Linked DNA regions of Homo sapiens: region 1 is linked to region 2. The links come from fine-mapping of genetic effects on plasma protein levels. Region 2 holds a variant in brackets. A gene starts in the other region. All regions are shown on their forward strands.

Region 1 (5,367 bases), not on the chromosome of region 2:
GGCTCTGTTGCCCAGGCTGGAGTGCAGTGGCATGATCACGGCTCACTGTAGCCTCAACCTCCCAGGCTCATGCGATCCTCCCACCTTAGCCTCCCAAGTAACTGGGACCACAGGCACACACCACCGTGCCCAGCTAATTTTTATTTTTTATTTTTTATTTTTTTTGAGATGGAGTTTCGCTCTTGTTGCCCAGGCTGGAGTGCAATTGTGCGATCTCGGCCCACTGCAACCTCCGCCTTCCAGGTTCAAGTGATTCTCCTGCCTCAGCCTCTGGAGTAGCTGGGATTACAGGCATGCACCACCACGCCCGCCTAATTTTGTATTTTTAGTAGAGACGGGGTTTCTCCATGTTGCTCAGGCTGATCTCGAACTCCAGAGCTCAGGTGATCTGCCCACCTCAGCCTCCCAAAGTGCTGGGATTACAGGCGTGAGTCACTGTGCCCGGCCCAATTTTTAATTTTTTGTAGAAATGGAAGTCTCACTAGGTAGCCCAGGGTCTTCACCTCCTGGATTCAAGTGATCCTCCTGCTTCAGTCTCCTGAAGTGTTGGGATTACATGTAACAGTCACTTCATTCACCCTGAATCATTTATGTAGGGGACAAAAATCACCGTCTCTCCAAGGACAGAACTTCTTTTTTGTTTTGTTTTGTTTTGTTTTGTTGAGATGGAGTCTTGTTCTGTCACCCAGGCTGGAGTGCAGTGGCGCGATCTCTGCTCACTGCAACTTCTGCCTCCCGGGTTCCAGCCATTCTCCTGCCTCAGCCTCCCCAGTAGCTGGGATTACAGGCGCGCACCACCATGCCCAGCTAAGTTTTGTATTTTTAGTAGAGAAGGAGTTTCACTGGCCGAGCGTGGTGGCTCACACCTGTAATCCCAGCTACTAGGGAGGCTGAGGCAGGAGAATTGCTTGAACCTGGTAGACGGAGGTTGCAGTGAGCCGAGATCGCGCCATTGCACTCCAGCCTGGGCAACAAGAGCGAAACTCCGTCCACCCCAGCCAAAAAAAGAAGTGGTTTTGCCATGTTGGCCAGGCTGGTCTCTAACTTTTGACCTCATGATCCACCAGCCTCAGCCTCCCAAAGTGCTGGGATTACAGGCGTGAGCCACCGCGCCCGGCCTGGTCTCAAACTTTTGACCTCGTGATCCACCAGCCTCAGCCTCCCAAAGTGCTGGGATTATAGGCGTGAGCCACGGCGCCTGGCCGCAAAAATGGAACTTCTGCATCACAGGTGACTAACGGTGCCAGGCACACAGTAGGTGTTCAATAAATCACTTTGGACTAAAAGAACACAGAGGCCAAGGGGAAGTGAAGAAACGACTCACAGGTCAGTTTTATTGGGTGCCTAGTGCAGGGGTCAGTACACTACGGCCCTCGGATCAGCTCTGGCCCTCTGCCTGTTTTTGTAAATAAAGTTTTATTGGGTGCCTAGTGCAGGGGTCAGTACACTACGGCCCTGGGATAAGCTCTGGCCCACTGCCTGTTTTTGTAAATAAAGTTTTATGGGCACAGAGCCATGCCCATGGTTTTACATATTGTCTCTGGCTACTTTCACTCTGCGATGGCAGAGCAGAGTCATTGCCGCAGAGACTGTGGCCTGCAATGCTGAAAATATTTACTCTCTGGCCCTTTACAGAAAAAGTTTGCCAAACCCTGAGCTAGTGTGTGCTGGGCCCTGTGCCAAGCCCTTTGTGTGTGCTCACTCAGTTAACCCTCCCACAGCCTTAAGGGTGGGGGCAGGGGGGTGGGGGGGAATAAGGCTCCGAGAGGTTGAGAAACAGACCCAGGGTCACACAGCTTGGAGATGGGTGAGCTGGGAATCAGACAGACCCGGGACCCCTGATATTCTTTAGGATCTTAGCTTTGTTAACCTTTGCTAATTTATCTTATTGTCTTAAATGCTAAAATGAATACACATTCATTGTAAAAAGGGAGGAATAAAGAAAAGGTGTTGACGGCCTTCTTCAGCCTGGGGTACATCCTGCCGTATCTTTCTCCACAGCTCATCCGGGGCTACTTTCCTTTAAATCTACAGCCATTCAGCAAACATCGGCAGAGGAGAACCGTTTTATAAGAAAACTAAGAAGTTTGGAAGAATCTTTCCTTCCTGCCCACCCTGGACCCCCATGAGTAGGTGTGCTGGGGCTGGTCTGCAGTGTTCTCACGGGAAACCAGGAAGCTGGGCCCAAGGCCTACATGTTGGGGAAGACAGGTCCTGCCTGTCTCCTGCTGTGGCTCCCCAGTGCTCTGAGGACAAAGCCTGAGCTCTCCCTGATTCTCCACCGTCCCTCTCACTCACTCTGGTCGTCTGGTCGCTGGGCCTTTAGTGAGTGTGCCATGGGGGCCCTGGGGCCGATTAAATTCCAGCCCCGGGGACCAGGCTCAGCTCCCAGCCAGGGCACAGACAGATCAGCACCTGCGGTTGTCTCCACCCCAACCCCCGGCCTTTGCAGGCACAGCGCCCTCCACCAGATACTCCGGCAAAGGAGGCCTGGGGACCCTGCGAGCGGGGCCGGGGGTGCAGGGAGCTGTCAGCTCCTCGCAGCGGCCTCCCCAGGACCCCCCTATCCCCTCGCTCGCCCTGAAATGTGTGTCCCTCTCGGCGTCTGGGCTCTCGAGAAAGGCCTTTGCTTGTCTGACTTCGCGAGGGTCCCGGCTCTGGCCCAGGAGCTGGGGAGGGGCGGGACTTGGTGACAGCCGGGTCCCAGCACCGCGCCCAGACCTAGGCCCTTCTCAGGGGTGCCCCGGGGCGGGGCGCGCGGGGCGGGGGGCGGCGGCGGCGCAGCCGGCAGGAGGCGCAGCGCCCGCTCGCAGCGCGGGGAGGTGGGAGGGGAGCGGGGCGGGGAGCGGGGCGGGCGGGAGGGAGAGGGGAGCGCGCCGGAGACGCGCGCGCCCAGCCCACCCCCCGCGCCCGCCGCCGCCCGGACAATAAACAGCAGCTTTGCGCGGGGCGATGCCCGAGCCGGTGCCGCCGCCCCCGCGCCGCGCAGCCCCGGCCGCCAGGCCTTAGCCCGCCCCGGCCCCCGCCAGGCCGCGTCCCCCTCCCCTCCCCTCCCCCGCGCGCCACCCGCGCCCGCCCCCGCCCGGCACCGCGGACCCACCCGGACCTCGGCGGGGAGATGGAGTGAGTAGGCGCGCTCGGGCCGCGGGGCTGGGGGCCCGGAGCTCCGGGAGCCGGGGAGGGGGGAGGCCCCCTCTCTCGCGCCCCATTGGGGGCGTCGCTGCCCCCGCGAGGAGCAGGAGGCGGCGCGGGGCTGCTGGGGCCGCAGCGCAGCCGGGAAGAGACTCGGGCTGGGCCGCGCCTGCCGGGAGGCCTCCCCGCTCCCGGACCCCGGCTGCCCACCCACCGGCGCGTGGGGACCCGGGCAGCGGCGGCTCGGGCCAGTCCAGGACGCGGGGAGGGGGAGGCTCGCGTCTCCGCCCGCGCCCCGCCCGCGTCTCCAGGGCGAGCCTCGGCTCTCGGCCACCTGTGGGTGGCCCCGGGGAGATGGAGCGACCCCTCCCCAGATTGCACCGGTCCGGCCTCGCGCTCACGCACCCTTCCCCCGCCCCAGTCTGAGCGCACGGCTCCTGGCGCCCTGGACGCGCGCGCGGGCCGGTGCCCCCCACCCCCGCCCTTCCCAAGGGCCTCCAGGGGTGTCCTGAGCCCCCCGCCACTGCGCAGGTCCCGAGTTACCGCTGGAGGGAGAGGGGCTGCCCTCGGCTTCCCGGGTCTCTGGGGTGTGTGAGAAGGGAGAGGAACCGGCGTTTTCCAGCGGGGCGCCTGGGTGGGATACCCTCTCGGGGAAGTGTCTCGGAGCTGGGGCTCCACTGGTGTAGCTACAGGAGTGGGCTGGCCCTGGGCTGGGATCCCTGGACCCCCGCATGGCTGCGCCTGTGTGTGTGGGGGGGGGGTGGCCAGTGGAGGCACCGAGCGAGGGCGCGTGGTCATTTCGGACACCGGTCCCCTCCTCCCGGTGCTCGGGTGCCCCTCTGCCCCTCACTCCCACAGGTGGGCACTGCACGGGCAGGGGTCAGGAGGCTCCTCCTGGGGTCACCCACCTGCCCACTTCAGGACAGGGGAGCCAGCTGCCCTGCTGAGGCCCGGGTCCCCACCCCAGCCCGAGGACCGAAGACCGGATCTGGAGGCCGCCTGTGGCCCCCTGCCCTTCCCACTGGGCGTGTTTTCTAAGCCGCCAACTTTCCCCGGGGATTCACCCGTGACCCGCCACGCCCGCGGCTGGGTGGGGGCCGCTGCCTCCCTCCCTCCCTGGGAAAGCGAGACACCCAGTGTCCTCTGCTTTTGAAAACCCAGACAAAGGCCTGACCCCTCTCCCCGTCACCCCGCCCCGGGAGCTCAGCCAGGGGCTCAGGGGAGCCAGGGCCCAGACTTGCCTGCTCCACACCCCCACCCCCCAGCCTTGTTTATCTGCCCTGCTCGCCAGGCCCCGGAGGAGCCTCTGGGCCTCTGACAGCCAGGCCTGGGCAGGGTGTGGCTGTGGGGAGGGGGCTGCCTAGGAGGACGACGGAGATCTCCCTCCCAGAGGAGGGGTGTCAGCGAACACTCCGGGTCGGGCCCATTGTTTCCTTCCTGCCACCCCTTCCTTTCCCACGGGGGATACTGAGGCCCAGAGAGGAGCTGCTGCCCCCCCCCCACCCCCCCTCCATCACACAGCACCTGGGGCCGGGGGGCCTCGGTGCCTCCTGCTCTGCTCCACGGTTTCTCCGTCCTGGGTCAGAGGGTGGCCCACAGGTCCCCCATTGGGTCATCATTGCTTTTGGGGATGCAGACATGGGACAGGCACCCAGTGTTAACCGGCTGCTGTGAGCCGCCATTCGAGGACGACTCTCTCCCCGGTTCCCGGGCTGACAATGGGTGGGGACAGGCCCATCTGGTGCCGCCCGGCCTTGGACACCTGCCCCCTCGTTCTTCTCCCCGGCGGGCTTCAGGCACGAAGGCCCCGTCCGCTAGAACGTGATCGCTTGCCTCCTCCCGTTTCCACAGATTTTCCAGTCGAAGACACGGGAGCTGGCTGTGGTTTGTGGTGGTGCCCGTCTCGCTGGAAAGTTTCACAAATGAATTTAAGAATTTAAAGAATTTTAAATGTCATTCAAGAACAGGTTATTTTTTGTTAATGTGAGGATTTAAGGAGAACTAGCGGGTTGCTAACCACAGGGCCGATGCTGCCAAGGTGAGGAGAACGTCCAGGAAGGAGCTGGGGAGAATCTCTGCTTCGGAGAGAATCTCTGTGCTCTGGGAGGGTTTGTGTGGCCCCTGCGTGACACATGGTCTGGCTGGTAAAATAAAGATATTTTGGCCTGGAGCAGCCATTCTCCAGCACCCACAGCCCTGTCCTGGGTACAGGCAAGGCTCAAACCCCCGGGATAG
Region 2 (5,367 bases):
ACATGAGATTTGGACGAAGACACAAATCCAAACCATATTCTGTCCCTGGCCTATCCCAAACTTTGTGTCCTTCTCACATTGCAAAATACAATTATCCCATCTCAACAGTCCCCCAAGTTTTAACTCATTTCAGCATTAACTCGAAAGTCCAGTCCAAAGTCTCATCTGAGACAAGACAAGTCCCTTCCACCCATGAGCCTGTAAAATCAAAAACAAGTTAGTTACTTCCAAAATACAATAGGGGTATAGGCATTGGATAATTACTCCCTTTCCAGAAGGGAAAAATTGGCCAAAGCAAAGGAGCTATAGGCCCTATGCAGGTCCAAAACCCAGCAGGGCAGTCATTAAATCTTAAAGCTCTGAAATAATCTCCTTTGACTCTGTGTCTCACATCCAGACCACACTGGTGAAAGGGCTGGGCTCCCAAGGCCTTGGGCAGTTCTGTCCCTGTGGCTCTGCAGGGCTCAGCTCCCATGGCTGTTCTCAAGGGTGTTGAGTGCCTGTGGCTTTTCCAGGTGCACAGTGCAAGCTGTTGGTGGATCTACCATTCTGGGGTCTGGAGGATGGTGGTCTTCGTCTCACAGCCCCACTAGGCAGTGCCCCACTGGAAACTCTGCATGGGGGTTTCAACCCCACATTTCCCTTCTGCACTACCCTAGTAGAGGTTCTCCATGAGGGCTCCACTCCTGCAGCAGACTTCTGCCTAGACATTCGGCCATTTCCATACATCTTCTGAAATCTAGGCAGAGACTCCCAAGCCTTAACTCTTGTCCTCTGCACACCCACAGGCTTAATGCCATGTGGAGGCCACCAATACTTGCAGCTTGCACCCTCTGGAGCAGCTGCCTGAGGCATATCTGGAGCTTGAGCCGCCAGGACACAGGGAGCACTGTCCCGAGGTTGTGCAGGGCAGTGGGGCTCTGGGTCCAGACCACAAAACCATTCTTCTATCCTAGGCCTCTGGGCCTGTGAAGGGAGAGGCTGCCATGAAGTTTGCTGAAATGCCTTCCAGGCATTTTCCCCATTGTCTCAGCTATTAACATTCAGTTCCTCTTTACTTACGCAAATTTCTGCAGCTGGTTTGAATTCCTCTTCTGAAATTTTTTTTTTCTCTACCACATGGCCAGGCTGCAAATTTTCCAAACTTTTATGCTCTGCTTCCCTTTTAAATAAAAGTTCTAGTTTTAGATCATTTATTTCCTTATGCATGTGACTGTAGGTTCTTACAAGCAGCCAAGTCACATCTTGAATGTTTTGCTGCTTAGAAATTTCTCCCTCAAGATACCCTAAATCATCTCTCTCAAGTTCAAGTTCCACAAATGTCTAGAGCAGGGGCATAATGCTGCCAGTCTCTTTGCTAACACATAGGAAGAGTAACCTTACCCCAGTTTCCAATAAGCTCCATCTGAGAGGTCTCCATCTGAGACTTCCTCAGCCTGGACTTCATTGTCCATATCACTATCAGCATTTTGGCCACAACAATTCAACAAGTTTCTAGGAAGCTCCAAACTTTCCCTCATTTTCCTGTCTTCTTCTGAGCCCTCCAAACTCTTCCAACCTCTGCCTATTACCCAGTTTCAAAGTCATTTCCACATTTTCAAGTACCTTTATAGCAATGCTCCACTTCTCTGGTACCAATTTTTTTTATTAGTCCATTCTCACACTGCTATAAAGAAGTACCTGAAACTGGGTAATGTATAAAGAAAGGATGTTTCATTGTCTCACAGTTCTGTAGGCTGTATAGGCTTCTGCTTCTGTCAAGGCCTCAGGAAACTTACAATCACAGCAGAAGGCAAAGGGGAAGCAAGCACATCTTACATAGTGGGAGCAAGAGGAAGGAGGGGTGCCACACACTTTTAAAACAGCACTAGAGGGATGGTGCTAAACCATTAAACTGTTCCTATGATCCAGTCACCTCCCACCAGGCCCCTCCTCCAACACTGGCAATTCCAGTTCAACATGAGATTTGGGTGGGGACACAACTCCAAACCGCAGCACTTGCACATATACCCCTGAACCTAAAATAAAAGTTTAAAAAATAATAATAAAGAAAGAAATCTACACACACACACACACACACACACACACACAGAGAGAGAGAGAGAGAGAGAAAGAGAGAGAGAGAGAGAGAGAAAGAGAGAGAAAGGCAAGGTCACAGCTAAAAAAAAAAAAAAAATCCCTGAGCTACAGAATTCAGAGAGCTTCCAGGCTGCTGAACTCATGGAGGTGCTGGGAGGGTGGTGTGCCCAGAGAAGGCATGGAAGTTCTGCACCCCTTTCCCCATACCTTGCCTGTATTTGTCTGTTCTCATGCTGCTAATAAAGGCATATCTGAGACTGCATAATTTGTAAAGGAAAGAGGTTTAATGGACTCATAGTTCTACATGGCTGGGGAGGCCTCACAATCATGGCAGAAGAGCAAGGAACATCTTACATGGTGGCAGGCAAGAATAGGACATGTGCAGGGGAACTCCTCCTTATAAAACCATCAGATCTCATGAGACTTATTCACTATTAAGAGGATAGCATGGGAAAGACCCACCCTTATGATTCAGTTACCTCCCACAACATGTGGGAATTGTGGGAGTCACAATTCAAGATGAGATTTGAGTAGGGACACAGCCAAGACATGTCATTGCCCTGTGCATCTCTCCCATCTGGCTGTTCCTGAATTGCATCGTTTTATGATAAACCCATAACTTAGTAACTTTTCTCTTTGCTTTCTGTGAACTATTCTAGCAAATTAGTGAACATGAGGAGGAGGTCGTGGGAACCTCCAATTTGTAACCAAGTCAGACAGAAGTTGTGGGTGACCTGGGGACCCACCACTTATGATTGGGCTCTGAAGTGGGGATGGTCTTGTAGGACTGAGCCATTAACTTGTTCTAACTCCAGGCAATTAGTGTCAGAATTGAGTTAAATTGTAGGACACCCAGCTGGTGTTGGAAAATTGTTCAGTGTGGGGGAAAAACCCACACATCTGGTGTCAGAAGCGAAATGTGTTGTGAATAGAGGAAAACAGTGA[G/T]TGCTTCTTATATGCCTCTGAATGCTGGCATTTGACAGAGACCCTAACCTCATCTACCCCAGAAGCTGTAACAGTTCAGGACTCATATTTAGCGTAAATAGGGAGATATTTTGATTTCCTCTGAAAGAAAACTACTAGCTAGAAAAGGGACAGGCTGGGTGCAGTGGCTCATGCCTATAATCCCAGCACTTTGGGAGGCCAAGCCCAGGAGTTCAAGACCAGCCATGGCAACATGGCAAAACTGCTGTCTCTACAAAAAATAAGAAATTCACTGGGTGTGGTGGTACACACCTGTAGTCCCAGCTACTTGGGAAGCTGAGTTGGGAGGATTGCTTGAGCCCAGGAGGTCAAGACTGTAGTGAGCTATGATCATGCCCATAAATAGGCACTGCATTCCAGCCTAGGTGACAGAGTGAGACCCTGTCTCAAATAAATAAATAAATACAATACAATACAATACAATACAATACAATACAATACAATACAATACAATACAATAAAATACAATACAATAGAAAAGAGAGGGCATAAATGTGGAGAGTCCTCTGACCTAGTCTTAGAAAACAAGGCCATGAAGGTAGGAACTGTGTCTCTCTCAAGTTCATCGTGCAACCCTTCACAGAGCTCCACATGCAATATGGGGACTTACGAGTGTACTTTGAGGTTGTTCTTGCTGGGCATGTCACTATATCACATGCTTCCCTGACCTCAGTTCCTGCTGCCAAGCAGCCACAGATGCACCTGCATCAGTTTTCTCTGTCTCTACTGGATCGTTTTCTTTCCCATACAAGTTTGCTATAGTTTCTCCTGCCTTAAAAAAAGAAAATGTTTAATCTCTCTTGACTCCATGCCCCTGTCCTGTTTCTTCTTTTCTTTCTTTTTTTTTTTTTTTTACCTTGAGTCTTGCTCTATCACCCAGGCTGGAGTGCAGTGGCACGATCTCGGCTCACTGCAGCCTCTGCCCCCTGGGTTCCAGCGATTCTCCCGCCTCAGCCTCCTGAGTAGCTGGGATTACAGGCCCATGCCACCATGCCTGGCTAACTTTTGTATTTTTAGTAGAGACGGGGTTTTGCCATGTTGCCCAGGCTGGTCTCGAACTCCTGACCTCAGGTGATTCGCCCGCCTTGGCCTCCTAAAGTGCTGGGATTACAGATGTGAGCCACCATGCCGGGCCTCTTCCTTTCTTTTCACAACAAAATTTCATGAAAGTGGTGTGTATTCTCACTGTCCTTTCATTTCTGTCCTGCCTTTCTCTCTTACCATCCCTCTGGGCAGATGGTCAGGGTAAAACCATTGGCCAATATCCAGGTGGTCTTGATGTTGCTCAATCCAATGGTTAACTCTCAGTCCTCTTCTTAGTTGACCTGTAAGTAGCTGATTGGACTCAGGTCGATGCTCTTTCCACCTAGAAATAGAGAGGGGGATGAATTTCAGGAGGGATGTTTTTGAGTGGCCAAGAGGAAATCAAATCTAGAGCCCAAGGGGAGAGGTTGGCCTTAGGACACAGACAGTTCATCCCTTGTCACAGGGTAGATGGCAGACACAGTGTGAGGATAGATGTCACAGTTGGACCTTGGGAAGTTCTGTTTTCAGTGCTTTGACCTTTCTCTTGGAAATAGGAGTGAAGGGCATTAGCTGAGAGTGAGAATGGGGCAGAGGTGTTGGAGATTTGAGAGAGAGAGAGGAGGTATAAAGTAAGTGATCTGGCCGGGCATGGTGGCTCATGCCTGTAATCTCAGGACTTTGGGAGGCCAAGGCAGGTGGATCACCTGAGATCAAGAGTTTGAGACCAGCCTGACCAACATGGTGAAACCCCATCTCTACTAAAAATACAAAATTAGCCAGGCATGATAGTGCATACCTGTAATCCCAGCTACTTGGAGGGCTGAGGCAGGAGAATCACTTGAACCTGAGAGGTGGAGGTTGCAGTGAGCCAAGATCACACCATTGAACTCCAGCCTGGGCAACAAGAGCGAAACTCTGTCTCAAAAAAATTTTTAAATAAAATAAAATAAGTGATATTGAAAATTGGATAAGAGACATGATGCTGCCAGGTGGCATTAAGGGCCAGTTGAGTTAGTGACTATCAATTTAATGTAAGACAGATCAACACATATATTATTTATTTTTTGCAGATGACAAATTTTCCCAAATTCAGTGGTCTAGAACAGCATATATTTATTATCTTACCATTTCGGTGCATAGGGAATTTGGGAATTTAGCTGTATGGTTCTGACCTCTAAGACTTTCATGAGACACCGACTGCAGCTATAGTCAACTGATGGCTCAGCTGTGGTGGGAGGATCTCCTATCAGGATGGCTCACTCGCATGGCCATGGGCAG

Direction of the effects. Alleles are on the strand shown, and positions count from the first base shown. The strength of an association depends on the size of the effect and on how common the allele is.
For the plasma level of the protein whose gene starts at base 2,907 in region 1, allele G in region 2 goes with a lower level than allele T (weak association).

The links. A credible set is the group of variants that fine-mapping cannot tell apart. PIP is the posterior inclusion probability: the model's chance that the variant is causal. Protein levels are from antibody-based Olink assays in UK Biobank. Linkage for the fine-mapping came from a reference panel and not from the study's own genotypes, which makes the PIPs less certain.
Region 1: it holds the start of PALM, and the variant in region 2 is the best candidate, but not a certain one, in a credible set for the plasma level of the PALM protein (UK Biobank, PIP 0.59).

The regions. Positions count from the first base shown.
Region 1 is chr19:706,029-711,395 of GRCh38, forward strand. PALM (paralemmin) reads left to right here and starts at 2,907. Exons shown (of 9, transcript NM_002579.3): 1 at 2,907-3,123. The coding sequence starts at 3,119. RefSeq lists an enhancer at 1,904-2,464 and a silencer at 1,917-2,153.
Region 2 is chr1:223,673,654-223,679,020 of GRCh38, forward strand. LOC105373281 (a long non-coding RNA gene) reads right to left here. Exons shown (of 3, transcript XR_949164.2): 3 at 4,165-4,429. Among named protein-coding and RNA genes, the nearest start is that of CAPN8, 11 kb to the left of the region's middle. The variant G/T (reference allele first, on the strand shown) is at 3,025.